2 separate regions of the Homo sapiens genome follow, and region 2 is linked to region 1. The links come from fine-mapping of genetic effects on gene expression. A gene starts in region 1. The other region holds a variant in brackets. All regions are shown on one strand. Distances are between the middles of the regions.

The links.
Region 2: its variant is fine-mapped to the expression of PHLDB1 in monocytes after LPS (Kim-Hellmuth 2017, PIP 0.95).

The regions. Positions count from the first base shown.
Region 1 is chr11:118,598,467-118,613,911 of GRCh38, forward strand. PHLDB1 (pleckstrin homology like domain family B member 1) reads left to right here and starts at 9,149. Exons shown (of 23, transcript NM_001144758.3): 1 at 9,149-9,233; 2 at 15,350-15,430. The coding sequence starts at 15,371. It overlaps LOC124902765 (a long non-coding RNA gene), which reads right to left and starts at 10,045. Exons shown (of 2, transcript XR_007062908.1): 1 at 9,657-10,045; 2 at 4,433-8,722. ARCN1 (archain 1 coat protein complex I subunit delta) reads left to right here. Exons shown (of 10, transcript NM_001655.5): 10 at 2,159-4,567. The coding sequence ends at 2,248. RefSeq lists a cis regulatory region at 6,186-6,381, silencers at 9,641-9,730, 9,791-9,860, 12,376-12,435 and enhancers at 9,988-10,282, 10,320-10,994, 10,995-11,668.
Region 2 is chr11:118,188,057-118,203,501 of GRCh38, forward strand. JAML (junction adhesion molecule like) reads right to left here. Exons shown (of 10, transcript NM_001098526.2): 6 at 15,372-15,445; 7 at 12,418-12,556; 8 at 9,942-10,035; 9 at 8,679-8,765; 10 at 5,669-6,361. The coding sequence ends at 6,269. Among named protein-coding and RNA genes, the nearest start is that of SCN2B, 19 kb to the left of the region's middle. RefSeq lists an enhancer at 6,208-6,397. The variant C/T (reference allele first, on the strand shown) is at 8,141.

The DNA of each region.
Region 1 (15,445 bases):
ATGTGTGAGCTGTTCCTTCGGATTTTTTTTTTTTTTTTTTTTTTTGAGATGGAGTTTTGCTCTTTTCACCCAGGCTGGAGTGCAATGGCGCGCTGTCAGCTCACCGCAACCTCCGCCTCCCAGGTTCAAACAATTCTCTTGCCTCAGCCTCCCAAGTAGCTGGAAATACAGGAATGCGCCACCATGCCCTGCTAATTTTTGTATATTTGGTAGAGACGGGGTTTCTCCATGTTGGTCAGGCTGGTCTTGAACTCCCGACCTCAGGTGATCTACCCGCCTCAGCCTCCCAAAGTGATGGGATTACAAGTGTGAGCCACAGTGCCCAATGGATTTTTTTCCTTTTTTTCTGAGACGGAGTCTTGCTCTGTTGCCCAGGCTGGAGTGCAGTGACATGATCTCGGCCCACTGCAACCTCTGCCTCCCGGGTTCAAGCAATTCTGTCTCAGCCTCCCCAGTAGCTGAGATTACATGCGCCTGCCACCATGCCTGGCTAATTTTTGTATTTTTAGTAGAGACAGGGTTTCACCATATCGGTCAGGCTGGTCTCGAAATCCTGACCTGAGGTGATCCGCCCACCTCAGCCTCCCAAAGTGCTGAGATTACAGGCGTGAACTACCACGCCTGGCGGATTTTTTTTTTTTTTAAGACGGAGTTTCACTCTTGTTGCCCAGGCTGGAGTGCAATGGCGTGATGTTGGTTCACTGCAACCTCTGCCTCCCAGGTTCAAGCGATTCTCCTGCCTCATCCTCCTGAGTAGCTGGGACTACCGGCATGCGCCACCACGCCTGTCTGATTTTTGTATTTTTAGTAAAGACGGTATTTCACCATGTTGGCCAGGCTGGTCTCAAACTCTTGACCTCGTGATCCAGCCACCTCGGCCTCCCAAAGTGCTAGGATTACAGGCGCGAGTCACCGCGCTCGGCCCGGATCATTATTTTTTAACTCATCATTCTTCCAGTTTTTATTGTTGTTGTTGTTTTGAGACGGAGTCTTGCTCTGTCACCAAGGCTGGAGTGCAGTGCGATCTCAGCTCACTGCAGCCTCTGCCTCCCAGGTTCAAGTGATTCTCCTGCCTCAGCCTCCCAAGTAGCTGGGACTACAGGCGTGTACTGCCACACCCAGCTAATTTTTTTTTGTATTTTTAGTAGAGATGGGGTTTCACCATGTTGGCCAGGCTGGTCTCTAACTCCTGACCTCAGATGATCCGCCCACCTCGGCTTCCCAAAGTGCTGGGATTACAGGAGTGAGCTTCCACGTCTGGCTGTTCTTCCAGTTTTTTAATTTGCATTACTAGGACCCAGTTTATATTATTAATATTCCCCTCTTTTTGACTTGCTTGTTGTTCTGGCCCTACCTTAGCTTCCCATATGGTCTCCGTCTCCCCTGTAAATGCTTAGAAAATTGCAGCTTCCTCCCTTGAATGATTCCAAAGAGCAGTTCTCTCTCCCTATCCTGTTAGTGACATAACCCCATCAGTGTTGGAAGCAACTGTATTGAACTCAAGACATTAGATAGAAATGGGTAAATTTTCCTATTGGGGCTATTCAAAGATTAGGACATTATAATTGCTCTCCCAAAACTTCATTAGAAAATACGAATCAGTGGTTCAAGTGTTGTATTGGTGCCGTTATAGGTACCATTGTTACATGTAATTAATTAAGCTGGACATTTATTTATTTAAAAAGGAAAAACCTCATTGGACCAGCCATGCCTAAAAAATAAGTATGATAGAGCAGCTTACTGGGACTTTTAACACGAGACTTTGAGAGCAGAGCAAATGAATAATGTGAAGAGCTAGAACGTTGCCTTTTGGGTCAGAATGTTAATATATCATCCTGATAGAATGTCTATGAATTTCATAGGTTATACAGGGCAGGGCTGGGCTGTGGCCACTCATTTTGGAGCTTTTACTTAATACTACGGAACATCTCGTCCCAACAGTTGTCTTTTCTCCATCTAGAAGAAAAGCAGCTTAATCATTTTGGTGGGGAAGAGTGATGCTGTGACTTTCAGTTGTGAATTGAACATTTTTCTAGTATTTTACAGTTACTTTTAATACCGCTTTTAGGGAAATTGATATGTTCTGTAATGAGAATGTAGTCAACATGATGGAGACTCAAACCTCCTGCTTTACCTTACTCTTTGTTTATTTTCCTAGGTTACCAAAGTGACCCAGGTAGATGGAAACAGCCCCGTCAGGTTTTCCACAGAGACCACTTTCCTAGTGGATAAGTATGAAATTCTGTAATACCAAGAAGAGGGAGCTGAAAAGGAAAATTTTCAGATTAATAAAGAAGACGCCAATGATGGCTGAAGAGTTTTTCCCAGATTTACAAGCCACTGGAGACCCCTTTTTTCTGATACAATGCACGATTCTCTGCGCGCAAGGACCCTCGACTCACCCCCATGTTTCAGTGTCACAGAGACATTCTTTGATAAGGAAATGGCACAAACATAAAGGGAAAGGCTGCTAATTTTCTTTGGCAGATTGTATTGGCCAGCAGGAAAGCAAGCTCTCCAGAGAATGCCCCCAGTTAAATACCTCCTCTACCTTTACCTAAGTTGCTCCTTTATTTTTATTTTATTATTATTATTATTATTATTATTATTTTTTGAGATGGAGTCTCACTTTGTAACCCAGGCTGGAATGCAATGGCATGATCTCAGCTCACTGCAACCTCCGCCTCCTGGGTTCAAGCAAGTCTCCTGCCTCAGCCTCCGAGTAGCTGGGACTACAGGTGCACGCCACCACGCCTGGCTAATTTTTTGTATTTTAGTAGAGACGGGGTTTCACCGTGTTGCCCAGGCTGGTCGCGAACTCCTGAGCTCAGGCAATCCGCCCACCTCAGCCTCCCAAAGTGTTGGGATTACAGGCATGAGCCACCATGCCCAGCTGCTCCTTTATTTTAATCCCTAAATATAATCCCTAAATATAGTTATATTTCATACTTAGTTTGTTTTTAAAAAGTTTTCTCTGTAGAAAATTTTAATCATTCATACCCTTTACCTTTAGGTTTTTCTTTCTATACATTCAGTCAGGCACTGGGATCATCTGTTTACAGGCATTATATTTATTTGGCACTCCTGGAACAAGTATATCTAACCCATTCTTGATTTTTGGACTATTCAGGTGAACTATTTGAGGGGTATGGGGTCTAGAAGTTAAAAGATACGCATGTCTTCTGTTCTTTTCCCGTATCAATTCATTCCTTCATCTCTTTGCCAAGTTGTTTTCCTTTCAGGGCCTGTCCTTCCAGTTTAGAACAGTACCATGAATCCCACTTGTGTCAATATTAAAGATAGCTGAGAAGCACCTTTCAAATGGCACAGTCCCTCTTCAAGATGTCTAAAAGAATGGTTATGTCTGTCCAGTTAGGGATTTCACATCCACATGTAATCATGTCTGCTGCTGTTGCTACCCAAATTTTCATTTCTCCACATTTTGGGTACTTAAGCTAAAACGTAATGGCCACAGTCTGTAATCCATTCACATTCCTCAGTTTCACCACCTCCCTCTTCCAGACTGCACTCTCTGTCATCAGTCCCCTCCTTTCTAACAGAAATGGGGTTATGATTTTGAAGGCTGTGGGTTCAGGGAGTCTTTGCCAATCCTGTTGGCCCTAAACTATCAAGGAGGCTCCATTTCACCATTTGATTTTTTGCATTTCAGGAGGCAACTGATTGTTTCGATATGTACATATTACTCACGTATACCCCATTTCCTTCCAGTCAGCCCAACATTTTCCACCAGTCTGTCCCCATCTCTGAAATCCTTCCTTCTCTTTCCCCCTAAGTCTTTTGAGTGTCATCATGTACTGGTGGTTTCTCGGTTCCATCTCATCCATTTCCTTTTCAATGGAGACTACAGCGTCAGCCAGCTCAGCCTTGGCTTTTAACTCAATATTCCAGTCCATAGGGGTGGTTAAAAGTTGCTGCAAGGCTGCAGGCACTGGCAGTGGGAAGAGGCAGACGACTAGATGACTTCTGCACTTTTAGCTGGTTGAAAAGTACCACTCCCACTCTGAACATCTGGCCGTCCCTGCAAAGAGTGTACTGTGCTTGAAGCAGAGCACTCACACATAAATGGCTGTGTGTGGAATTGCTTGCCAAAGAAGTTTCTAGCCTTTCCCTTTCCCCTAACTGCATCAGGGAAGAATTCTTATCTCTAGCTTGGTTTCCACATGAGGTTTTTCTGAGAAGGGCTTGGGACAAGAAGTCTGTCATGTTAGTTAAGCAGGCAAGAAATCCTACTAATCCAGTTTTGTTTGAAAGTTGTTTGTCCGTATGATTTTTTAAAAGTCAAGTTTAATTTCAAAAAACCTTTTTTTTCTGAGATTACTTTTGGGGTAATATTTAAAATGAGAGACATTTTGTAACCCTGTAAAATACATAGGGAATATAACATTCCAGTGTATACAAAGAAGGCAAATTCTTTAATCAAATAAAGCGCATTATAAAATGAGATGTTTATTGGATTATTGACTCACTTTGGTGTCTGCTTGTTGATTCAGGATGCTGTAATGGGACCTAACATTAAAAATTAATGACATGTTTTTTTTAAGAGAAAGTAATCTGTGAGAGTATTCATTGCCTTTTTCCATCTTATATGTATTGTGCTTCCTTGCGTATTTTTCTACATTTGATACATGCACTCCTGACAGTGTAGCTTTTGAATTTGATGCTACTTCTGGCCTTTTTGGGGATTGGAGTCTTAATTTTGTCAGACGGCAGTTGGAGAGTCAAAAAAGTCAGGCTTCATCTTTAATCTTGGAGTCTTGGAGTCTTCTCTTCCCCATTAGACCGTGATGAGAAGTGATCCAGGGATGAGGGATAATGGGAACAATTTTTGGGAACTGTTGATAATTCCCTCAGATAAACCTGCTTACTTTTTTTTTTTGAGATGGAGTCTCGCTTAGCTGCCCAGGTTGGAGTGTGGTGGTGCGATCTCAGCTCGCTGCAACCACGGTCGCCCAGCTTCAAGCGATTCTCCTGCCTCAGCCTCCAGAGTAGCTGGGATTACAGTCACCCGCCATCATGCCGGGCTAATTTTTTTTGTATTTTCGTAGAGACGGTTTCACCATGTTGGTCAGGCTGGTCTTGAACTCCTGGTCTCAGATGATTCGCCCACCTCTGCCTCCCAAAGTGCTGGATTACAGGCGTGAGCCACCGCGCCCAGCCTTTTTTTTTTTTTTTTTTGAGACAGTCACCAGGCTGCAGTGCAGTGACATGATTTCGGCTCACCACAACCTCCACCTCCAGGGTTCAAGTGATTCTCCTGCCTCAGCCTCCTGAGTAGCTGGGATTACAGGCATTCCACACCACCACCCCCGGCTAATTTTTGTATTTTTAGTAGAGACGGTTTCACCATGTTGGTCAGACTGGTCTCAAACTCCTGACCTCGTGATCCGCCCGCCTCAGCCTCCCAAAGTGCTGGGATTATAGGCCTGAGCCACCGCGCTCCGCCAGAGCTGCTTACTTTCTTATGCTTTTTTAAAATTTAACTTGGAAAAACTATTGGGTGTCAAAAAATTGGAAGGCAAATTATTCTCACTTATTAAGTATCTGGGATGAGAAATTTCTAATGTTGAAAGCCAAGATTCTGATTTTTTTTTTCTTGGTGAAAAAAAGTATCTGGTCTAATGTTGCTCAAGTGTGGCTTAGCTGTCTGAGACTGTAGCCTTAATCGAATGAAATGATTAAGGTCTGTCATTCCTTTACTCACCATAGCTTCAAATTTGTCAACCCATGCATCTCTGATGGGAAACTTTGCCCTCCAATTAATTTTTAAATTGTGAACAGTTTTAAAGTTGTTCACACTGGCTAGGGTCTGAGATTTCCAGGGTTGATATAGAATAGCTTTTTATTAAACTTCACATCTGACAGGGCTTATTGGAAGGAGACAGGAGAAAAATGGAAAAAGTCATCCTCAAGAAGATTAAAGTCTAACTGGAAGCAATGACTATCTGCTTGTGAAGCCTTTTTTTTTCCAAGTTAGACAAGTGTTAACTACAGCTAGTACTAAACATGGATCTATATGAGAGTAGGTAACATGGCTTCTGTCTTGTAGGCTCTAGAGGAATCTCAAGCAAAACCTCACAAATGATTTTCTTTTGCTATGCACATCTGTCTTATTACAACCCCCTTACCCCCAATTCCCTTGTCCTAGAAGATCCACAAGTAGGTTGGTTGCTGTGCATTGCTGTTACCCAAGGGCAGACAGCAACACTACAAATAGCTGCCTTAACGTCTTATCCTGGGGAGTTGGGGATTGATACGGAGGTAGGCCTTTAGAAAAATTAGACTATCTTTCCAAACCAGGCTGTTTTCCCTCTCACAATCACAAGTCAAGCTATTAGGCAGTTTTCAGAAGCTTGGACCACTTCTCCCATCCCCCACCGCAGTTTTTTTGCCCTGCTGTTCTTAGGGCAGGGGCTAAGTGGTTATTTAGGGTCTAAACCAATACTGGAAAGCTTCCCTAGGTTTACTCTGGGTGATCAGATTGATTACCAAACCAGGACAGGGGCTGTTTGAAAGAAGCATTAGAAATTCAAGACAATGAGAGAAATTGAAATAGGTCTTGTCTCCCATTCTTTTGCCCAAATGAATGCTTGTTCTTTTAGCTCATTAGGAAAGCCCTTAGCCTTGGAGGTACACAAGACCAGTCTTCTGTCCTACCCAAATTTCCCACTTAGCTTGGATGCATGTTAGCTTTGGGTCGAAGCAGACTATGCAATTTCTAAGACAGCTGAAAAGAGAGCTTTGAACTTTTCCCCAAGTTGCTGCAGGGTCATTGCTACCACCACGCCTACACCAATGATGCCTGACTTCAGGATCCAGAGGCCAGAAACGGACAGCTTTCTGGAAGAGGGTGTGTATCTACAAGGATTGCTTGCTGTATGAGCAATAATCACCTCTCTGGGGCTAGAGGGAGTACAATTTGAGAGGTGGGACAAAGTGGGGAATGTGCCAAGGCAAAAGCAGGAGTATGGAAATTCACTCCTGACACTTGTAGCCAATGCAAAGGGCCTTAGAAAAATCCACTCTTCCTTCCACACCCAGGCTTTGCCCTCTCCCCCTGCTTCCACTTCGGAAAGTCTGAAGCAGGCCTGGAAAGCTGTTTTCTGCTTTCTTTCCCTCTCTTCCTCCCCCTTTCCTGAGCTCCCAGCTGCTCGACCTCTTGCGTAACTGTGAGAGAGCGCTGAGTTTTTTGATGGGCTCCAGATGTGGAGCAGGGCGGAGATGGAGAGTGGGGGCGGTAGGTCTTTAGTCCCCTGAGTGCTCTAACTGTGGGAACATAGAGGCCTGACACAGCAGGGGAGAGGACACATTGCACAGCGCCTTTATCATAGGGTCAGCTGGTCCCTGTGTTGGGAGGTCAGTGAGAGAAGTTGGGTGCTGTTTCGACCCTCTGCCTCAGCATCCACTGCCTCCATGGCAGGCTTGATTATTCCCTGAAATTCCTCCTGCCCAGTACAGTAAAGAGGAGCTGGGGGCCGTGAAACAGAATGAAGTGAAAAGCCTCTGAGGTACTGCAATCTGGACCCCTCCCCTCAGTGCTGGGTCTTGGCACATGGGATACAACAGTTTGGGTTTTTTCCTTCTTCCTTTTTTTACATACCCAAATAGCCTGAATATTACTGTTGTGATCTGCCTCATGAAGGTTCATCAGAATTACTTTCATGACTTCAAACAGTATGAAGAGAGGAAAAACTAGAGTCTCGCTCCTCAAATCCTAGGACTTCCTGGTACCCACAGCATATTCTGGATCTTGAGTGTTCCACCTCCATTAGCTATAGCAGGTGGCAGCAAAGGGCGGCCTCTCCCCTCCCCCTCCTTGTCTGCTGCTTGGCCCCGGTCAGCTTCAGTCTCCAGCCGTGGGGGGTCCCCTGCTAAGGCCAGCCCTGTCAATGAGTGACCAGAGATTCCTGTAGTTCAGCCTCCTGCTGTTCCTGGGTTAGGGAGAGACGGCACAAACTAAACTCATTGAATTAGAACAGCACTTGTCCATCTCAAAGAGGATAAATTATTTTTTGCTATCCACCCCAGCTGGAATTTAGACCAGACTTACAGGCTTTCTGCTCCTTCCTTCAGTGAAGAAGAGTCTCCAGGGTCCCTCTAGTGCAGGTCAAAGAAGTCCAGTCCAGCTGAGTTCAGCTCCCTAGGGCCTCCCCAGCCAGTCTCCTGGACCAAGAGCTGGCTTTGCAAGGTAAGGATCCACTGTCAGCGTTGGATTTCGGAGTGGAGGTTGAGATGGAGAATGACTTCAACCTAGCTCAATTTGGGGGCTGCTTTTAGGTGTTTAGTGCCTCCTTCTCTTCCTTATTAACTCCCACTCCTACTACAGGTTGGTGTGCTCAATTGTATGTCTATAGCCTGCCTCCATCTCCCAATCTGTAATCCAGCAAGTCTGTCGGGGTGGAGGGGTGTGGAGCTCCATGGGGGCAAGATGATAATTCCATTCGGTTTTCCTGTGCTTTGGAGTTTGCATGACACTTTAACGAGTCTTCTTGTGCCTATCCTTAAGAAAGTCTGTGAAGCCTGATGTGCGTGGCTATCAATGTCATTTACAGCTCTTCATGGTGGGGCTTGGAATAGGGCGAGGGGAGGAGGTGACAGGGAGAAGACCTGGGTACCCTCAGTAGATGTTCTGGAGATGTTGAGAGCATGTTGTAGGGGCTTCGATTTGGGAGGTTCAGTGGGAGCCCGTGGAGGTTTCAGGCATCTAAGGCAAAAAGAAAGAGGGGAGAGTTTGGGGGAGGGAGAACGGATTGTCAAAAACACCCTCTCAAAAGCGTGTTAAAGCCTGGGAGTGGAGGGTGGTCTAGGAGAGTCGGGAGGGCAGGGTGGGAGGAGAGGGGGATGTGTGGTGGTGGTGGTGGTGGTGGTGGTGGTGGTGGTGGTGGTGGTGGTGGTGGTGGTGATGGTGGAGAGCCCAGCTGCAAAGATGAACAAAGCGGGCGCTGTGCAGGCTGGGGGAGGTGCTGCTGTGGGAAAGGGTGGGTGGGGGGACCTTGGGCTCCAGCCCCACAAGGGCGTCTTCTTTGGCTGGCCAGGCGGACGGGACGGGGGACGGGGGCGGGGACTGGCGGGAGGGGGGCGGGACAGGCTCGCTCTCCTCCTACTTAGCGAGCTCCCGGGGAAAAGCAACGGTGTCCTCCTAAGCCTGAGGCCACCGCGACCGAGCCGAGCCAGGCTAAGGGACCAGTGTCTCCCTGCCCCCCCCCCACCTCTAGGTAAGAGCGCCCCGTCCCACTACACTTGCGGGTCCCATTCGCTGCGGTGCTAGGACTGGATAAGGGGAAGTCCCCGGGGCCTGGCGAGAGCCCTGAGATCAGCTCTAGGCTAGGGAGCTCGGCAGAAACCCGTGGGGGAGAGAGGGCACCCCAGGTGAGTGCGTGGGGGCGAAAGGAGCGTTATGGGGAGTTTTCCTGTGAGCCTCTTGCTTTTGCCTTCCTCGGCCGCTGCCAACGCCACCGCCAGAGGGGGCCGTGACGCTCTCCCCCCCTTGGAGAAACTCTGATCCTGGCCCTATCCAGACTCTCCCGCCGGCACCCAGGCGGCCGGGCGGACACTCGCGGGGTATCGGGCGGCGAGCGCGCGCGCGGGTTTTCGTCCTCCAGCGCCCCACACCTCCCCCTCTCCGCCCACAGCAGGACCTTGGGGCGGGGGTATCTCCTGTGACGTCTCCCCGCCTGTCCCCAGGCCGGCCGCCTTGATGGACCAGGAAGGGATTCGGAGTCCGGCTCAGAGTCTTGAGCGTCTAGGAGGGCTGCCTGGGGGTGTCCAGGAGATGGGAAGCCCGCCTGGGGCCTCCCAGGCACTCCCCAAGGCCCCACGTCCTCGGGGGCCGGGGAGGCCGCCTGGGGCGCCTTGCCACGCCCGCGCGGTCCCTATTGGAATCCCTAGCGGAGTTCCCCGAGCGGAGGCTGACCCAAGTCATCCGGGCTCCCCCGGGATAGGGAAGTGCGGGCGGGCGGCTGGGTAGGGGCGCCGGCGCAGGGTGGCCGAGTCGCCCGCTAGCGCTTCCGCCGAGGCAGGCTCGAGTGGGGACTTGGCCGGGCGACCGCACAGCCCTGCCGGGGACCCACGGCTCTGGGGCGGGGCTGCATTCTGGGCCGTTAGCTCAGCGGTCCTGGAGCCTCCCGAGGCTGACTCATCGGGCGGCGGGCTCACCCCCCAGCCGTCAAACGCAAACGCAGGCGCCCCACCACGCCGGGCTCCCACGCGGCACACACGCACGCCTCCGCGACACTTCGCACACCTACGTCCCTGCGTCACGCCACCCAGACACACCCGGACCCGCCCACACGCCGAGGCCTTCCCACGCACTCCATGCCTTACGCCTCACAGGAAAGCGCCCCGCGCTCACGCAGCCCCTCACACCCGCAGCCCCGCTTACACGCGCCCCAGCTCACACATGCACCCCAGTCACACAGCCTACCTCACACACGCACCCCAGTCACACACACAACCCAGCTCACACACGTACCCGTCACACATGAGGCCCCAGCTCACACACGAAGCCCAGCTCACACACGCAGCCCCAGCTCTCACACACACACCCCAGTCAAACACGAGGCCCCAGCTCACACACGAAGCCCAGCTCACACACACTGCCCCAGTTACACAGCCCAGCTCATGCAAGCAGCCCGTCACACACACAGCCCAGCTCACACACACAGCCCAGCTCACACAAGCAGCCCGTCACACACACAGCCCAGCTCACACACACAGCCCCAGTTATACACACACAGCCCAGCTCACACACGCAGCCCGTCACACACACAGCTCAGCTCAATACACAGCCCAGCTCACACACACAGCCCCAGTTACACACACAGCCCAGCTTACACACACAGCCCAGCTCACACACACAGCCCATCACACACACAGCCTATCACACACACAGCTCAGCTCAATACACAGCCCAGCTGACACACGCAGCCCAGCTCACACATACACTCCAGCTCACACACGCAGCCCGTCACACAGCCCCAGCCACACACACAGCCCAGCTCACACACGCAGCCCAGCTCACACATGCAGCCCCCTCACACATGCAGCCCCAGTCACACACACAGCCCAGCTCACACCGCAGCCCCAGCTCACACACGCGGCCCCTCACACACATTCAGCCGCCCTTCCCGCAGCTGCCAGGCTCGGAACGGGCGGTGTCTGTGGGGGCCGCCCCGTTTCCCGGCCGCGCAAACAAGCGGCTCCTTCTCTCTGCCCCGCCAAAGAAAGGCCGCTTGTCAGGGGCGGGCGGGCAGGCGGCAGCGGCAGGCGCCCAACACTGCGGCCTTGTCCCACGCGGGCAGCCTGGGCAGGAGCAGGCCGAGGGGTGCAAGGGGCCGCTACCTTGCGGAAACCTCCCTCCCTCGGCCCTGCGGACCGCGGAGAGGCACCTTTCCACCACCGGACACCCAAGCAACAGCCCTCGCTCCATCCGCGCTCTCCCGGCTCCCCCTCTCCTCGGGCCGCCCATCTCTCCTCTCTTCCGCCTTTGGGGTCCCGGTGGGCCCCAGCCTCCCTCTCCTTCGCCCCATCTCCCCGCCCGTCAGCCTCCCCTCCGCTGCCCTCGCGCATCCCCAGTGTTCCCGTCTGTCGTCGCCTCCACTTGAGGACCCGCCTGTCCTTTCTTCCCCCGACCCCTCCACCTCTGTGTTCTTCAGTCTCCCCGCATCCTCTGCCCTCGGTCTTCCCCTCCCCAGCTTGCATTTTTTCCCATCTCTTAGTCTGCCTTTCATTTTCCCCTTCACATCCCGGTGGCTCCCCTTCCCCGCCCCGTCCCTCTGCACACCCCCATTCATCTCTGTCAGGTTTTTCTCATCCTTAAGTTCTCTCGTCCCCCTCCCCACTCGGGCGTCCCCCGCTGGGCTCCCCGCCTCAGTTTCCTTCCCTTCCTGACTCCTTCCTCTGACGGCGGCCCTTTCTCGAGGGCGGATGTGCGCCTGGAGGGCGAAGGCGGCGGCCGAGAGGACCCCAGCTCGGCCTGGCGGGCCTCTGGCCACAGCCATGCACCGCTTGGGCCGAGGCCGAGGCCGACCCCCAGGGACACAGGTGAGGCCGGGCGACCCGCGGGGCTCCGGGGAGCGCCCGAGCAGTGGCCCCGCGAAGGGCCGGGTCTGGTGCTCTGGGGCTGGCTTTGGACCTCTCGTCCTGGGACTCCGTGGGAGCCCGGGAGCTGTGTCAGTGCCCGTTGGTGCTGGAGCCAGTCGGCCCTTCCTTGGCCTCCTTCAGGCGGGGGCCAAGACCCCCGAGAGTTCACTCTGGGTGCTCCACTCGGCGGAGAGGGCTTCAGACTGGTGTCCCGCGTGGCTGGGGTGTCGGCGCATTCCCGCGGGGGAGGAGGCCGAGGGCCCGGGCCGGGGTCACCTGCCGGCGCCCCGGCCTTGCGCACAGAGGGCCTTGCCTGTCGCTCGTCAAATCCAGACACCTGGGCCTCCGCCACTCGGCTGCCGGGGCGGCACTGGGGCGTCTGTACCCAGCGTGCGGGAGGGCACCCAGGGCCGGACGCGCACCGCAGGGGTCTTTTTTTGGCCGCGGGGCCGGGCGGGCGGGTAATGACAGCCGGGTTGCTGGGGAGCCGCGGGCCAGATGGAAGCGGGGCCGCAGGTGAGGGACGTCCCTCGCGTAGCGCCACTCAGCCGCCGGGGCCAGAGCGGGAGTCAAGGTGAGGGCGCCCCCAGGTGGCCGCTCTCGGCCGCGGCGATCGCCCTTTGGGAAAGCACCGCCTGAGTGCAGGGCAGGTTGGCCTGGTGTCTCTTTCCACTTCTCTTGGATCAGGTTACTGTGCTGGGGCCACAGCCTCGCACCTCCCAATCTCTCCATCTTTTCTTATCTTCTCCCCACACCTCTCTCCTTATCTCTCCCTTTACTTTCGCCTCCTTATTCTCTTCTCTCCTCTAATCACTCTTGTTCTCCATCGGCCTTACTCCTTTACAATCTTTATCTCCACTTGAAGTTCTTGGGTGTAAATAAATGAGCACACCACAGCTGCCCCACACGGCGATAGTGACCAATACTCCAATATGACAGATAAATAAACTAACGCCCAGACAGGTGAACTGCCTTGCTCCAGGTCACACAGCTCATAATAATAAACGGGGCCAGGCGCGGTGGCTCACGCCTGTAATCCCAGCACTTCGGGAGGTCGAGGCGGGCGGATCACCTGAGGTCGGGAGTTCGAGACCAGCCTGACCAACATGGAGAAACCCCGTCTCTACTAAAAATACAAAATTAGCTGGGCTTGGTGGCAGGAGAATCGCTTGAACCCGGGAGGTGGAGGTTGCGGTAAGCCGAGATAGCACCGCTGCACTCCAGCCTGGGCAACAAGAGTGAAACTCCGTCTCAAAAAAAAAAAAAAAATAATAATAATAATAATAAATGGCATTAAGTGCTTTGCTTTCACAGAATGCCATTTAATATAATACCTGAATTTCAGACAGTCCTTTTTAAAAAACTGACAGCTTTATTGAGGTATAATTTATATACTATAACATCCACCCAATTTAAGTATGCAATTAAAAGATTTTTAGTATATTTACAGAGCCATGCAATCATCACAATTTAATTTGAAAACATTCCCCCCACCCCACCCCCACCAAACTTGTGCCCTTTTACAGTCACTCCTCATTCCACCCCTAGCCCCAGGCAAGCACTGATCCAGACAGTCTTTTTTATTTTTTTCCATTACTCTAGTTTTATAGAAGAATAACTTGATAATCAGAGAAGTTAAATAACTTGTCTAGGATCTTATAGCTAATAAATAAATAAAGTCAGGGTAGAATTTAAGGCTTTATATATCCCAGTCTAAAGTTCTTTCTACCAAAGGATGATGTTTCTCCTTCACCATTATTTATTATTTTGTTTTTCTTAACCCCTTTTTTACATAAACTCCCCATTCCCAACCCACTCTCTTGCCCCTCCTCCCTCAGAAAATGCTGAGGGATTTCCCTGAGTCTAAGGAAGCAGTACAGCAATCTTTGTCCTTGGAAATTCTTCTCCATGGCCAGGAATTCTGGGGAGGTGCCAGGCCAGCTTGGGGCTTTGCATAGGTTAATGGCGTTTTCCCTCCCCTCTTCCCTGGCAGTCTTGGGGTGGGCCCCAGCCTGGGTTCCGGCCTCTCTTCCGCCAGCTTGGGTGGAAATGGTGACGGAGATGATGCAGTCCAGGTCCGGAAGGGTGGAAGCTGGGAGGGTAAATTTAGTAACACCATAGCTAAGGTCCTCGGGACCCACTGCCAGGGTCAGACACTCCTTGGAATGCGGGCTGCTGCCCCTACTTCCTTTCCAAGTCCCCTGGTAGATGGCTTGAAGAGAGAGTGGAAGGAAACCCTGTTTCCCTGGGTCTGCCTCCTTACCCCTCAGCCACACTCTTAGCTTTCCCCAGTAACATTTCAGCAGCAAGTGGGAAGTTTCTCAGCTTAGCTAGTTGGCCAAGGGATGGGCATGGGGGCATACATTAGTACACAAAGGTCCTCACATCTCAGATACCAAAAACATGAGCCAGGGAGAGAGGGATGCATGGTGGGTGAGGGGCAGTGGGGTGGTGGTGGGGAGTATTCAAGTTCTGGCTCTGGAATCTGTCTTACTCCTGGTTCTAATGGTTTAAGCTTCCTATAGCACCTAGCCAATTAAGAACCCAAGAGTTGAGCCCAATATTCCCAGTATTAGTTATCACTAAAGTTTTTTGTTTTTAATTAAAAAAAATTTTTTTAGCTGATTGTGTTGGGTTGAGGTTGCTTTCTGGGGAAGAAAAGGTGTAGGAGTTGAGACATCTGGAGATAGCAGGAATGGCTGAGTTTTTCTTTTGTGTCTCCTTTAAGAAAACATCCTACTAAAGCCCTGGGAAAAGAGACAAATGGTGAAGAGGAGAATGAAAGGTTGCAGGAGGGAGCTCCTGTTTTAGCCCTGCCACCTACCTGGGGGCCCTCTGGCTACCAGTGTCCTTGGAGGGGCTTCCTTGCTGCTTCTCCCACTAAGGTAGATTTTCCCCACCCTGCTTAAGGCTCCACAGGGCCAAGGGTCTTCAGCTGTCAAAACCCGGGTTCTGAGTAGCATAGGGCAAGAAAGCACAGAAGTATAGATTGGGCCCTATGGGACTGTTTGTGCTTACAGTGGCAGGGGGCAGGACTGGTATCCATGCTGTGGCTGGCTGGAGACTTGGCACTGCTCCCAGACAACTCCCACCCAAGCTCTTTAGCTGCCTCTATTTCCCTTCAGCATGAGCATTTGGGGAATGATGGTGACTGGTGACACCTCTGCCCTGAGAACCCTGCCACAGAACCTACTTCTTTCCCTCTCCTGCCCTGGCCTCCCCACTCACCACCTTTCTGCTGTGTCCCTAGGAGCTCTGGAGCCTTAGGACCATGGACGCTCTCAATAGGAACCAAATAGGCCCTGGATGCCAGACCCAGACCATGGTGCAGGTGAGTGGGATCAGG
Region 2 (15,445 bases), 410 kb before region 1:
AGTGCTGGGATTACAAGCATGAGACACTGCACCCAACCCCAAAGGATTTTTTTTTCAATAGGTTTTTGGGGAACAGGTGGTGTTTGGTTACATGAGTAAGTTCTTCAGTGGTGATTTCTGAGATATTGATGCACCCATCACCTGAGCAGTGTACACTGTACCCAGTGTGTAGTCTTTTATCCCTTACCTCCCCACCCTTTCTGAGTCCTCAGAGTTTATTGTATCATTCTTATGCCTTTGCATCCTCATAGCTTAGCTCCCACTTATAGGTGAGAACATACGATGTTTGATTTTCCATTCGTGAGTTACTTGACTTAGAATAATGTTCTCCAGTTCCATCCAGATTGCTGCAAATGGCATTATTTCATTCCTTTTTATGGCTGAGTAGTATTCCATGGTATATATATATACCATATTTATTTTCTTCTTTGCATCCTCATAGCTTAGCTCCCACTTAGCTCCCATTCCCAAACATATGAGGTTTGGTTTTCCATTCCTGAGTTACTTGACTTAGAATAATGTTCTCCAGTTCCATCCAGGTTGCTGCAAATGGCATTATTTCATTCCTTTTTATGGCTGAGTAGTATTCCATGATGTGTATATATATATATATATATACCATATTTATTTTCTTTAACCACTCATTGATTGATGGGCAATTGGGCTGATTCCATATTTTTGCAATTGCGAATTGTGCTGCTATAAACATGCATGGGGAGGCATCTTTTTTCTTCTTTTTTCAAGACAGAGTCTTGCTCTGTCACCCAGGCTGGAGTGCAGTGGTGTGATCTCAGATCACAACCTCCATCTCCCAGGTTCAAGCAATTCTCCTGCCTCAGCCTCTCAAGCAGCTGGGATTACAGACATGTGCCACTACACCCAGCTAATTTTTGTATTTTTGGTAGAGACAGGGTTTCACCATGTTGGCAAGGCTGGTCTTGAACTCCTGACCTCGTGATCCACCTGCCTTGGCCTCCCAAAATGCTGAGATTACAGACGTGAGCCACCATGCCCAGCCTATCTTTTTCATATAATGACTTCTTTTCCTCTGGGCAAATACCCAGTAGTGGGATTGCTGGATCAAATGGTAGATCTATTTTTAGTTCTTTAAGGAATCTCCACACTGTTTTCCATCATGGTTGTACTAGTTGACATTCCCACCAACCTTGTAAAAGTGTTCCCTTTTCACCACATCCATGCCAACATCTAAAATTTAAAATTAAAAAAAATTTTTTTTTATTATGACTGTTCTTGCAGGAGTGAGGTGGTATGGCATAGTGGTTTTGATTTGCATTTCCTGATAATTAGTGATGTTGAGCATTTTTTCGTATGTTTCTTGGCCATTTGTATATCTTCTTTTGAGAATTGTCTATTCATGTCCTTAGCCCACTAATTTATGGGTTTGTTTGTTTTATTCTTGCTGATTTATTTGAGTTCCTTGTAGATTCTGGATATTATAATAGTCCTTTGTTGGATATACAGATTGCAAAGATTTTCTCCCACTCTGTGGGTTGTCTGTTTACTCTGCTGATTATTTCTTTTGCTGTGCAAAAGCTTTTTAGTTTAATTAAATCCCATCTATTTATCTTTGTTTTTGTTGCATTTGCTTTTGGGTTCTTGGTCATGAAGTCTTTGCCTAACCCAATGTCTAGAAGGGTTTTTCTAATGTTATCTCCTAGAATTTTTATGGAGCCAGGTCTTAGATTTAAGTCTTTGATCTATCTGAAGTTGATTTTTGTATAGGAGAGAGATGAGGATCCAGCTTCATTCTTCTACATGTGGCTTGCCATTTATCCCGGCACCATTTGTTGAATAGGGTGTCCTTTCCCCACTTCATATTTTTGTTTGCTTTATCACACATCAGTTGACTTGTAAGTATTTGGCTATATTTCTGGGTTCTCTATTCTGTTCCATTGGTCTATATGCCTATTTTTATACCAGTACCATGCTGTTTTGATGACTGGCTTTATAGTATAGTTTGAAGTTGGGGAATGTAATGCCTCCAGATTTGCTCTTTTTGCTTAATCTTGCTTTGGCTATGCAAGCTGTTTTTTGGTTCCATTTGAATTTTGGGATAGTTTTTTCTATTTCTGTGAAGAATGGTGGAGGTATTTTGATGGGAGTTGCATTGAATTTGTAGATTGCTTTTGGCAGTGGTATTGTTTGACTCTGTGTCCCATCCAAATCTCATCTTGAATTGTACTCCCATAATTCCCACATGTTGTATGAGGGACCCAGTGAAAGACGATTTGAATCGTGGGGGCAGTTTCCCTCATACTCTTCTCATGGTAGTGAATAAGTTTCATGAGATCTGATGGTTTTATCAGGGGTTTCTGCTCTTGCATCTTCCTCATTTTCTCTTGCTGCCCCCATGTAAGAAGTGCCTTTTGCCTCCCATCATGATTCAGAGGCCTCCCCAGCCATGTGGAACTGTAGGTCCAATTTTTCTTCCCAGTCTCGGGTATGTCTTTATCAGCAGTGTGAAAACGAACTAATGGCCGGGCACGGTGGCTCACGCCTGTAATCCCAGTACTTTGGGAGGCCAAGGAGAGTGGATCACAAGGTCAGGAGATCAAGTCCAACCCGGCTTACGTGGTGAAAGCCCGTCTCTACTAAAAATACAAAAAATTAGCCAGGCATGGTGGCGCACACCTGTAGTCCCACCTACTCGGGAGGCTGAGGCAGGAGAATGACATGAACCCAGGAGGCGGAGTTTGCAGTGAGCCGAGATCACGCTACTGCACTCCAGCCTGGGTGACAGAGCAAGACTCCGTCTCAAAAAAAAAAAAAAAAAAGAAAACCAACTAATACAGTAAACTGGTACCCATTGAGTGGGGCACTGCTGAAAAGATACCTGAAAATGCGGAAGGTACTTTGGAACTGGGTAACAGGCAGAGGTGGCAACAGTTTGGAGGGCTCAGAAGAAGACAGGAAAATGTGGGTAAGTTTGGGACTTCCTAGAGACTTGCTGAATGGCTTTGAGCAAAAGCCTGATGACAATATAGACAATAAGGTCCAGGCTGAGGCGGTCTCAGATGGAGATGAGGAACTTGTTGGGAACCGGAGCAAAGGTGACTCTTGTTATGTTTTAGCAAACAGACTGGTGGCATTTTGCCCCTGCCCTAGAGATTTGTGGAACTTTGAACTGAAGAGAGGTGATTTAGGGTATCTGGCAGAAGAAATTTCTAAGCAGCAAAGCATTCAAGAGGTGACTTGGGTGCTGCTAAAGGCATTCAGTTTTATAAGGGAAGCAGAGCATAAAAGTTCAGAAAATTTGCAGCCTGATAATGTGATAGAAAAGAAAAACCCATTTTCTGAGAAGAAATTTAAGCTGGCTGCAGAAATTTGCATAAGTAACAAGTTGCTGAGTGTTAATCCCTAAGACAATGGGGAAAATGTCTCCAGGGCATGTCAGAGGTCTTCACAGCAGCCCCTCCCATCACAGGCCAGAAGGCCTAGGAGAAAATGGTTTCATGGGCCAGGCCCAGTGTCCCCGCGCTGTGTGCAGCCTAGGGACTTGGTGCCCTGCATCCCAGCCACTCCAGCCATGGCTGAAAGGGGCCACCATAGAGCTCAGGCCATGACTTCAGAGGGTGCAAGTCCCAAGCTTTGGCAGCTTCCATGTGGTGTTGAGCCTGCGAGTGCGCAGAAGTCAAGAACTGGGGTTTGGGAACCTCTGCCTAGATTTTAGAAGATGTGTGGAAATGCCTGGATGCCCAGGCAAAAGTTTGCTACAGGGGCGGGGCCCTCATGGAGAACCTCTGCTAGGGCAGTGCAGAAGGGAAATGTGAGATCAGAGCCCCCATACAGAGTCCCTACTGGGGCACTGCCTAGTGGAGCTGTGAGAAGAGGGCTACCATCCTCCAGACCCCAGAATGGTAGATCCACCAACAGCTTGCACCGTTCACCTGGAAAAGCTGCAGACACTCACTGCCAGCCCATGAAAACAGCCAGGAAGGAGGCTGTACCCTGCAAAGCCACAGGGCAGAGCTGCCGAAGACCATGGGAACCCACTTCTTGCATCAGTGTGACCTGGATGTGAGACCTGGAGTCAAAGGAGATCATTTTTGAAGCTCTAAATTTTGACTGCCTTGCTGGATTTCAGACTTGCATGGGCCCTGTAACCACTTTGTTTTGGCCAATTTCTCCCATTTGGAATGGCTGTATTTACCCAATACCTTTTACCCCCATTGTATGTTGGAAGTAACCAGCTTGCTTTTGATTTCACAGGCTCATAGGTGGAAGGGACTTGCCTTATTTCAGATGAGACTTTGGACTGTAGACTTTGGGTTAATGCTGAAATGAGTTAAGACTTTTGGGGGCTGTTGGGAAGGCATGATTTGTTTTGAAATGTGAGGACATGAGATTTGGAAGGGCCAGAGGTGGAATGATATGGTTTGGTTCTGTGTACCCACCCAAATATCATCTTAAAGTATTATTATTATTATTATTTTGAGATGGAGTCTCGCTCTGTTGCCCAGTGTGGAGTGCAGTGGTGCAATCTCAGCTCACTGCAAGCTCTGCCTTCCGGGTTCATGCCATTCTCCTGCCTCACCCTCCCGAGTAGCTGGGACTACAGGCGCCCGCCACCATGCCCGGCTAATTTTTTGTATTTTTTTTAGTAGAGATGGGGTTTCACCATAGTCTCGATCTCCTGACCTTGTGATCTGCCTGCCTTGGCCTCCCAAAGTGCTGGGATTACAGGCGAGAGCCACCGCACCCAGCCCATCTTAAATTATACTCCCATAATTCCCACATATTGTGGGAGGGGCCTAGTGGGAGATAATTTGAATCATTGAGGTGGTTTCCCCCATACTGTTCTCATGGTAGTGAATAAGTCTCATGAGATTTGATGGTTTTATCAGGGGTTTCTACTTTTGCATCTTCCTCATTTTCTCTTGCCACCGCCGTATAAGAAGTGCCTTTCACTTCCCGCCATGATTCTGAGACCTCTGCAGCCATGTGGAACTGTAAGTCCAATTAAACCTCTTTTTCTTCCCAGTCTCGGGTATGTCTTTATCAGGAGCATGAAAACAAACTAAATACAGGCAGTATGGTCATTTTCACAATATTGATTCTACCCATGCGTGAGCATGGGATGTGTTTCCATTTGTGCTGTCTATGATTCCTTTCAGCAGTATTTTGTAGTTTTCATTGTAGAGGTCTTTCACCTCCTTGGTTAAGTATATTCCTAAGTATTTTAATTTTTTTTGCAGCTATTATAAAAGAGATTAAGTTATTGATTTGATTCTCAGCTTGGTTGCTATTGGTGTACAGCAAAGCTACTGATTTGTATACATTAATTATGTATCCTGAAACTTTGCTGAATTCATTTACCAGTTCTAGGAGCTTTTTGGATGAGTCTTTAGGGTTTTCAAGGTTTATGATTATGTCATCAGCAAACAGAGACAGTTTGACTTCCTCATTACCAATTTGGATGCCCCCCGCCAAAGGATTTTTAAGACTAACCTTATCAAATCTTACAATAGCAACTAAAAGTATAGGAACCGCACATTTCAGACCAAGAATTAAATCAGTGGCTGTCCACTGTGGCAACCCATGAGTATCAGGAAAGACAAATGCCTAAACTTCACCCAGAAATTTCAAATTAGGAGGCATGTGGTGAGGCCCCGCAAGGAGCCACCAGCAGGAATGAAGAACCACTGAGTTAAATCCCAAAACTGTATTCATACCCTACTTCCAACCCATTCACCCCAAACCTTTCCCAGGACCAAAACCAGCCTCTAGTGTGTTAGCACGGTTTGGCTTTCCTCCAGGAACTTCAGTTTTTCCAAAAGTTTCTAACTGTAAATTCCTCACCAGGACTTTACTTGCCCCCTCAACCGAGGCATAAAAATAGGACGATTTCCACAAACAACACTTATTTAGAAATAATGTGCCAGAGGAATGATTTGGGTTGGTTTTTATCTCTGATTCTTCCCAGTAACTCATCCACTAAGAACCCTGCCCACAGGAGGGTCTGATCCAACGGGGGGTTTGAGGCCACTCAGCTCAGCCTGGTTCCCAGGGCCAGTGTCCCACTCCAGAGGCCAAGTCCATGCTCCCCTCCCCTCAGCAGGCCTGTTCCTCCAGAGCTGTCCAGTCTCTCTGCCAGGCTCCAAATTCTCCATCTTCAGTGTATTGACCAAACAATGAGACAGGAGGACAGCTGGGAGAGCGGGAGTCTGAAATCACTGGTAGAGTGGCCCAGGACACACACAGGAGAGAGTCTCCACCGCTGCTGAGATGAAGGGACTCTCCATTCTTCTCAAAAGGCTTGCTGTGTTTTTGGCATTCCCCCACCTGACTTTTTTTCAAGTGAGTTGTTCCGATCTGACCTCAGAGAAGGCCAAACTGGGTGCTGTGGGGGAAGGGCAGAAAGAAACAAAACATGCTTGTAAGAAGTAGTTCCATAATCATAGCAGCTGCTGTTCATTGAGCTCTTCTCATGAGCCCGGCCCAGTACTGAATTTCATATGCATTATCTCATGTGATCCTTACCACCAGGAGGTAGGTATTATTATTGCCTTTCTAAGGATAAGGAAACTGAGGCTCAGACAGGCCAAGTTACTGCCCAAGACCATCTGGCTGCAACACAGAGTTAGAATTTGGACCCAGGTCTGTCTAACTCCACAGCTTGTGATCTTAACCTCTGTGTGTACAGCCTCAGAAAGGGAAAACAGCAAGGTGCCACTACATTTACATGAATTTCATCAATTCAACAACAAAAAACAAAGGCTCTTTGTTACCCCTGCTCCCTATCAGAGAACACCTTTATAAATGCAGTCTCAAACAAGTGGCCTGCAGTCCCAAATTCACCAACAGCCTTATTTAACTTGGCACATCATATTTTAAAATAACTTGACTGGCCCCTGCCAGCCTTTGAGTTTGCAGCCCAGGCCTCTTCTCTTACTCTATTGGATCTAGATCAAGAGGACAGGAATGGTGTTTTCAACAGAATCAAAACCATAATCGCCTAGCATTAAACCTGGGGAAGTTAGCTGTGAAGACAATTGTTCCTCCTGCATCATCTCCACCTCGGAGACGTTCTGCAAACAGTGCCACCCTGGCTGGTGACCCACTCAGCAGTAGCCACAAGGCAGCTGTATCAGCAGGTCTCCAGGAGCCAGGATGAGGCCTCGCAAGTTACTGCAGCATCACATAACAGTATGGGAGAAAGATACAGAGGGAAAATGATTCCATTCAGCTGCAACTTCAGGGTGGAGTTAATGTTTCACTCGGTGGATCCAGGCCAGGCCTCTGATCTCACACTTCCCTGGCAGACCTCTCTCTGCTGCAATCAGCTGGGAGTCATGTGTCCTCAGGGCTGGTACGATAGGAACAAACAAAGCCCATCATTCCACAAGCAGAGGAGGCCAGCCTTCCCAAACCCACAGAACACTGCTCCTTAATAGGCTGGGTGCCTATAATTAGTCTACAAATAGCACCGTGCTCATCGCCAGCTCACTCCTTTTGTCCCTACCCCCACTCACTGCACGCCCCGAGGTGCCTTTTCCAGGCACTGCAGTTCTCTAAGGGGCTACAGAAGTCTAAGCAAAGGGAAATTAGGAATCAGACTCCAAAATATTGTATGAGATCCAGCATGCAGCCTGCCTGGCAGTTAGGTTATGAGAAGGTATAATAAGTCACAAAGTTAAGAAACAAAATCTAAGCATTGGAAGGAACCCTACTTTGACCTTTTGATAGCAAGGAAAACGACTCACAGCAACACAATACTTGCCCAAGGATCTTATCCTATTTATCCTATTTTCTTTGTTGTTGTTGTTGTTTTGAGACAGGAGTCTCGCTCTGTTTCCCAGGCTGGAGTGCAGTGGCGCGATCTTAGCTCACTGCAACCTCCACCTCCCAGGTTCAAGCAATTCTCCTGCCTCAGCCTCCCAAGTAGCTGGGATTACAGGTGCCCGCCACCATGCCTGGCTAATTTTTTTGTATTTTTAGTAAGACAGTGTTTCACCATGTTGGCCAGGCTGGTCTCAAACTCCTGACCTCAAGTGATCCACCTGCCTCAGCCTCCCAAAGTGCTAGGTTTACAGGTGTGAGCCACCATGCTCGGCCTTTTTTTTTTTTTTTGAAACAGAGTCTTACTCTGTCTCCCAGGCTGGAGTGTAGTGGTGGATCT[C/T]GGCTCATGTAACCAACGCCTTCCAGGTCCAAGCAATTCTCGTGCCTCAGCCTCCCAAGTAGCTGGGATTATAGGCACGCATCTCCACACCTGGCCAATTTTTGTATTTTTAGTAGAGAGGGAGTTTTGCCACATTGGCCAGGCTGGTCTTGAACTCCTGGCCTCAAGCAATCCGCCCACCTCGGCCTCCCAAAGTGCTGGGATTTCAGGCATGAGCCACCACACCCGGCCGTGTTTTCTTTATTAGATTGAACTGATGAGGCAAAAGACGTCCTCCCTGCCCTCAGTAAAAGCCACTCTTCACTTCTTTTCACCACTAATATAAATAATCTCTGGTGATAACCTTTAATCCTTGAGCTTGGGTAAGAAAGTTTGATATCACTCTTCTATCCAGCAGAACTTCAGTTTCTCAGACTTTTCTGCTACTTAGAAAAATCACCGCCCTCAGCAGCCTCCCTTGGGCAACCCAGCCACGCCCACCACCACCACCACCTGAGCCTCTGACACCTGGCTCAGCTGAGGCCAGAATCATTCTCACCATGGTCATGTAGGTGGCCTCTGATTTTTCACTTGGTTCTTCTTCCTCGATCACCTCCCGTACAATTATTGGGGAGTAAATGTGTTTCTAGAGGGGGAAAATGGTACAAAAATTCCTAAAAATTAGATGAATCTTATACACCAGAGAAAAGGCCACCCACTCCTATTTGCTAGGCATCGACCACCCAAACTGCTGGTTCAGAGGGTTACTGAGACCTAGAGAATTCTCAACAATGATAATTCAGTCTTCAGTCTTCTTGAAAATTAACTGTCAAAGAACACAGTCTTAAGAACCAAACTCTTTGCTTCAAAAGCCAAACATCTTTGTTTAGATGGATGTTTAGGTAGCAGCAGGGGTTCCTTATCTTGCTAAATTCCTTGTATTCTGGGGTTATTTCCTTCTAATTACAGTAAAGGCAGAATGGCATTAATCAGCAGTGAATTGTCATCATCTCCCTCAGAGGATTTATGTGGCAGGGCCAGCCCTCATTGAACCTCACAACTGTGAGGTTCATGGTCCTGTCACTCGTTGGTAAAGCAGTATCATCCAGTGGCCCATTCTTGGACCACTGCACTCTACTGGGAAAAAATCCTACTCTTGGGACAAAAACAGCCCAAAATAGAGAAAGGTAACTATTCAAAGAGTTTTTTTAAAATTAAAGAAAGAAAAGAAAGAATAGGAGTTAAAGAAAACCAATCAATTTCTCAGTCTCTAGAAGCAATTATTTATAACTCCATTACAAAATCAATATGGAGAGAAAAGTCCTTCTTAATCCTTTCTTGCTAAGATCTTAGACTATTTCATTTTAAGCATTAGAACTCCTTAACTCCTGGATGTATTATAATTCTCCATTAGACTTTAGACAAATAGCACCTCCTAGATTACAAAGCATTTGCATATCATCATCTTATGTGAACCTTACAACAACCCTGTCAAGCAGGCTGGGCAACTATAGTATCTTTATCTTTATCCTCATTTTGCTGATGAGACTCAGGGAGGTGGCAGATCTTACTGACTCCAAGCGCAGTGCTCTTTCCTCAGCCCAATACCAGGATCTGCTGCCTGGGGCTGTCCCAGCCGACCCCATGCACTGTACTCCGCAGAGGCTCTTACTTTAGTGACAAAGGCTTCCTGAGTCCCTGCTCTGTGCCAAGCACTGGCCTGCAAGCTGCGACATACAATGGGTAAGATATGGTTCCCGGGGGTATGAGAACGGCCCAGGCCTGCATCTACTTAGTGTTTTAGGCTGAAGCGTGTGTTCACCTCCCCTTCACATCTTTCAAAATGGCAGGGTTTTTCTTTTATCTCTGGATTAGTCTTCTTCGTGTTCTTCACCAAGACTGTAGAATTCACTGAACTGCAAGACATGAAAAGCATGTGGAATTAACCAGCGGGCATGGTTTATTCAAGGGTCCCTACATGAGATCCCCTCTTGGCTTCGTGAAGAGAGAGACACCAGAGAAGGAACTATTCTCTCTGGACTCCTACAGCCAGGGCTACCCGGCTCACCTGGAAACCTGAGAAGCGCATCTCTTCTAATGAAGAACAAGAAGCCGTTCTGGAGATAATTTAGGCTGAAAAGCAGCTTCAACTTCTCTATTATCACTCAAGCCACTTTCAGTCCGTATGGGAGAGGTAATTTTAAGTGAATGAAGAGAGAGAGGGGAGATGGGATTCCATTTGACCATCCTGTCTACATTTCTGAGGACCAGGGAGTGCCGCGAAACCAGCAGGGGGCAGCAGGAGCTCAGCAAGACGCCAATCCGAAGGGCTCCTGGCCTTTCCGGGGGGCGGAGCAGAATAACCCCCACAAACACCCGACCCAAGCCCCAAGCAGGAGCTCTGCGCCTGCCCTGTCGGGGTCCCTTGGCCTTTGATCTCATGACCATTTGCCTTCTGAACATACTTTCTTTTTTTCTATTTTGGCCTAAGTCAGAACTAAAAAAAAAAAAAAAAAATTCAAGGTTTAAGCTAGAAAAGAAACCATATGTTTTGGTCTCAGTGGAAATATTTTCCTTGTATTTTCTGCTTTTAAAGTTGTATCTTCTCACTGTCAAATAATTCAGATAATACAGAAATGTAGACAGTTGGAAGTGGAAGTTCCCTGCAACCCGTCACCCCATGGGATCCACCTTCTCCTTCACTTCAAATTCCACACAATTACCCACATTTTACAACTGTCCTTCCAAGCCTCTCTCAGTGTAAGCATAAGCTCACATAAAATGTATTTAGTACATATGCTGCTGGAGTGAGCATCATATTATTTTCTCTTTTATAAAAATGAGGTCATACCATAAATTCTGTATTTTTACTCCTTGGATATCTTTCCATGTCATTATGTAGAGGGATCTGGAGTGTTTCATTGACTGGTTCACTGAATCGTTGCCTTTCTGACAGACACTGGCAATTATCCCTATTTTTAATTATAAGCAAGACGGCAGTTTTGCACAAATCTCAGCATATCCATTTAATTATTTCTTTAGAATAAACGACTAGACATGGAAGTGCTACCTTTCCTTTGGCGGGAAACTGAGGTCCCGACAGGGGAAGTAAGCTGAGAGTGGAATCCAGGTTGTCTAGCTCAGTGCTCCGAGCATGCCCAGAGCAAAGACCTTTAGAGAGGCCAGCCAAGTTCAAAACCAAATCAGGAAGCCCTAGGGAGTGCAAGTGAAAACTTAGCAGGCACAAGTGTTTTCTGCAGGATCCAAGACCCACTGGGAAAGAACACTCAAAAGTCAGGACTATTCATGAGGCCCTTTCCCACTGACACTATTTCAACAAGGGAGTCGATCTGCACTACAAGCATACTCCATCGATAGTTGGATAAACTGAGGGACATGGATCTGCCAACAGCCAGTGAAACACAAGTGTCCCTGTTGGAGCATCTGGGCACTTCTGAGACCCTGGGAGAACTACCGATGAAATTCAGGCCTTTAAAAGCACATTATTATTATTATTATTTTTTTTTTTTTTTTTTTTTGAGACAGAGTCTCGCTCTGTCACCCAGGCTGGAGTGCAGTGGCGTGATCTCGGCTCACTGCAAGCTCCACCTCCCAGGTTCACGCCATTCTCCTGCCTCAGCCTCCCAAGTAGCTGGGAGTACAAGCACATGCCACCACGTCCAGCTAATTTTTTGCATTTTTAGTAAAGACAGCTTTTCACCGTGTTAGCAAGGATGGTCTCGATCTCCTGACCTCGTGATCCGCCCGCCTTGGCCTCTCAAAGTGCTGGGATTACAGGCATGAGACACTGCGCCTGGCCAAAAGCATCTTTTAATAATAATTCATTTAGAACCTGAGGGCACCCATTCAAAGATCGTATCTCATAATTAGAATGTGGTCTTTTAGATAAAACCACTGGCAACCCTTAAGATCTTAGCTTCTATGCGGAACGTACAGTATGGATAATTTAAAAATCATCTTTTAGGCAGTGAATGGTACCATGATAGTTCTTGTGTAAGATTTATGCTCTGAATTATGCCCTACTGAGGCCCCCATTTCTAAGGGAGTTTGTAGTCTTTACATAATAACAAAGTGAATGAGGAGAGCGTAGGAATATTAAATTCTTTTCCCGGGCACAGTAAGCAAAGTGGGCAGGGTTACCACAGATGATTCCATTTAAAAATACCCCCTTCTGTGAGAATGGCATAAGTAGGGCCCTATCACCCTGTTCTACTTTGGGGTAGAGGCAGCCTTGCACCCCCAGCCTCCCAATCCAAGGGGTGGGGGTAGCCCTGTACCTCTTATTTCCACAGGTCTTCTTCACGATCAATATCAGAACAGGGAGCAGCAGGATTGTGGCACAGACAATTCCCACAATGATCACCAACTGATTACCACCCAAGACCAGAGGCCTCAGGGCTGCCGGGGTCACCAGTGCTTGGGAAAGTAGAAAAGCAAGGAGAGGGTCTCAATACTTTAGCAAAGAGCTGAGAGCCCCACAGCCCTATACCAAGTAGCACCAGCCAGGCCACGAAGCGGAGGGGAAGGCCAGACTCCACCCCATATCTGGACACTAGGGACACTGTCTCCATGAGATTGAGAACCAAAGTCTAACCCCCTCGTTTACCCTAAAATGTAGATTAAGGTGGGTGGGAGAAGAGGCTAGCAGTTCACCTCTAGTAAAGTTTCCTTTCACATCAACAATTCTATTCTAAAATTTGGCTTAACAAGGACCCAGAAATAACAGGCATTTGAGAGGCTGCTGATCTTCCTTAGGGCAAGTGGTTGTCTTCAAAAGAACTCATGCCGCAAGACTCAGCCCCACAGTGACGATACCAAGTAAAGCCTCCGGAGGTACTTCTGCCCATATGGAACCTTCTACTCATCTGCATGGTTCTTTCTAAATACATAAAGCAAACACCTCCTCAGGGCCAGACAGCACTAGGTACAGGGGATTCAGAGATGAATGATGATGTGTGGTCCCTGCTTCCAAGGAAGAAGACAAACACGTCAACAGAAAACCACAGGCTGCTGTAGGCGCTACAACAGAAGTCTGTATGGGGAACAGAGGGGCACAGAAAAAAGGGTGTCCAATTCTATATGCAGCAAGTGAGAATTTGCCAGCAAAAGTTCTAAAGTTTAACCTAAGACTTACAGGAAACATCCAGTTTGTTGGGAAGACAATATGGAGAAGGACAGAGGGGATGTTCTGCATGAGATCTGGAGGCCTGACAGGATGATGATTTTAGAAACTAGAAAGAGTTCAACGGGTCTGGCACAAAAGTGGCATTTGTGGGTGTGCTGGAGAATTTCGCTGGAGAGATGACAGGGTCCAAGTCAGGAAGGACCTTGACTATCTCAACCAAGAATCTGGCATTTTTCTGCAGGCAATGAAAACAACATTGAAAGATTATTAGCAGTGGAAGAGAAAGTTCTTAATGTGATTTAGAAAGATGGCACCAAGAGCCGCGTGAAGAATGAGGAGCAGTGGCTGAGAGAGAAAGCAGAGACTGGTTAGAGGCCTACAGTTCAAGACAGAGATGAAGACAGCCAGAACTAAGGCGGCAGTGACAGACTGGAAGGAAGACAACTTCAAGAGTCTGTAGTAGGAGTCAAGGACTTGTTGACCTGACCTGTTAGATTAGGGGTCTAGGAAAGGGAAAGAATCAAGCACACCCCCAGGCATCTAGTTAGACAACTGAGGTTGGGGAGATGGGCTGAGGAGGGGTGTGCAGGGGTAGGTTAGACATGTTGCATATGAAGGATTTGTGGAAAACTTGTGTAGAGTTGACTAAGTATATCCATGGGTGTGTGTGGAACTGTGTCCAACATAGAGTGCATATAAATGCTACTGAAGGAGAGAAGGCTGAGGATGGATAATTGCAGTGCCATTGGTGATCTAAGCTGGAGTAGAGGTAGAATAAGCCAGAATGCAGTGCACTGAGGAGTTAATGGGAGATGAGACAGTAAGATACCAAACACAGACCTTTAGCAAGCTATTTGGCTATGTTGAGAAAGAAACACGTGATTGTGGTGGTGGTTGTTCAACTCTGAATGTACTAAAACCATTGAGCTGAACGCTTTAAATGGGCAAATTGTATGGTATGTGAATTGTATCTCAGGAAAACAATCTTAAGAAAAAGAAAGACACAGAATGGAGCTGAAGAAAAAAAGACATAGAATGGAGCTGGAGTAATTAAGTAGTAGAATTGAGCAAACGTATCCATTGAATGGTAGAAACCAACAGAAAGTGAGCTCAAAGAGCCATGTTGTAAGGTTCCTGAGAAGGATACCACCTGGGCACAGGGGGCCAGATAAGCCCAGAGCAGAAGGGACCTTCCTCTGCCTCAGGATGGCAGGGCAGAGATAAGAATGGGGGAGACATAGATATGTTTGTGGGTGGAGAAGCTGCATGAGCCCCCATAATGGCTCGATTTTCTCTGTGAATTGGACTTCTGAGAAGGAAGCACACAGACCTGCCGTGCTCCCCTCTCCAGCTGGAGACAAGGTGCCTCCACAGACTTAGGTCTCTGGCCTGAGGTATGAGGTATGTTCCATCCTCACCCCATCTTCCCCACCCCCAGCCAACCACAGCCAACTCCTGAAGGCCCTAGCGACAGGCAAAGTCCACAGGCCACATCCTGATTGCTAACTGGGTTATGGTTTAACTTTAACCCCTCACTTATCAACCTCTCTCTGTCAACACAATCAAGTCTTTCCTCTCCTACACAGCACTGGCCTTGATGCACACTGTTTGCCAGAATCCAGAACCTCTGATCAGAAAACCCTCCATTTTTGGTTCTGGTGCCTGCATGTTCCTCTCTGTTCCTGGCTGTCTCTCACTAGCTTAGGATCATTTCCCGCTCCACTCTAACACATACAGCACCTCCCTTGAAACCAAGTATGCTGACTTTGGACATCAACTCCGATCCTTCCCTGAGCTTCTGTATCTTTACATCAGTAGATGACCCTGGCAATGAGTGGGGTCTGGCAGAGGATTGGTATTCACTAAATTAGCTCCCCTCCCCTTGGCCTAGCAGCAGGGCCAGAACTAGGGTGAGGCAAGCCAGGCACCTGAGGAGCCACCTCTAAGGAGGCATCATTCTCAGGGTTGTGCAAGGCCAGAGTCAGCACCTGAGAGGGATGCCTCCTTCAATTTTGCATCCTAGGAACCTCTCCGGCCTCACTCTAGTCCTGGCGCCATGCACCAGCCAGGAGGTCCCTCAATGCTCCCCAGCCAAATGTTAGATACTTCGAGGCTCTTCCGGGCTGACATGCAGCACAATGGTTTTCTTGAACACCAGGTTCCCTAGGTGGATACTGCAG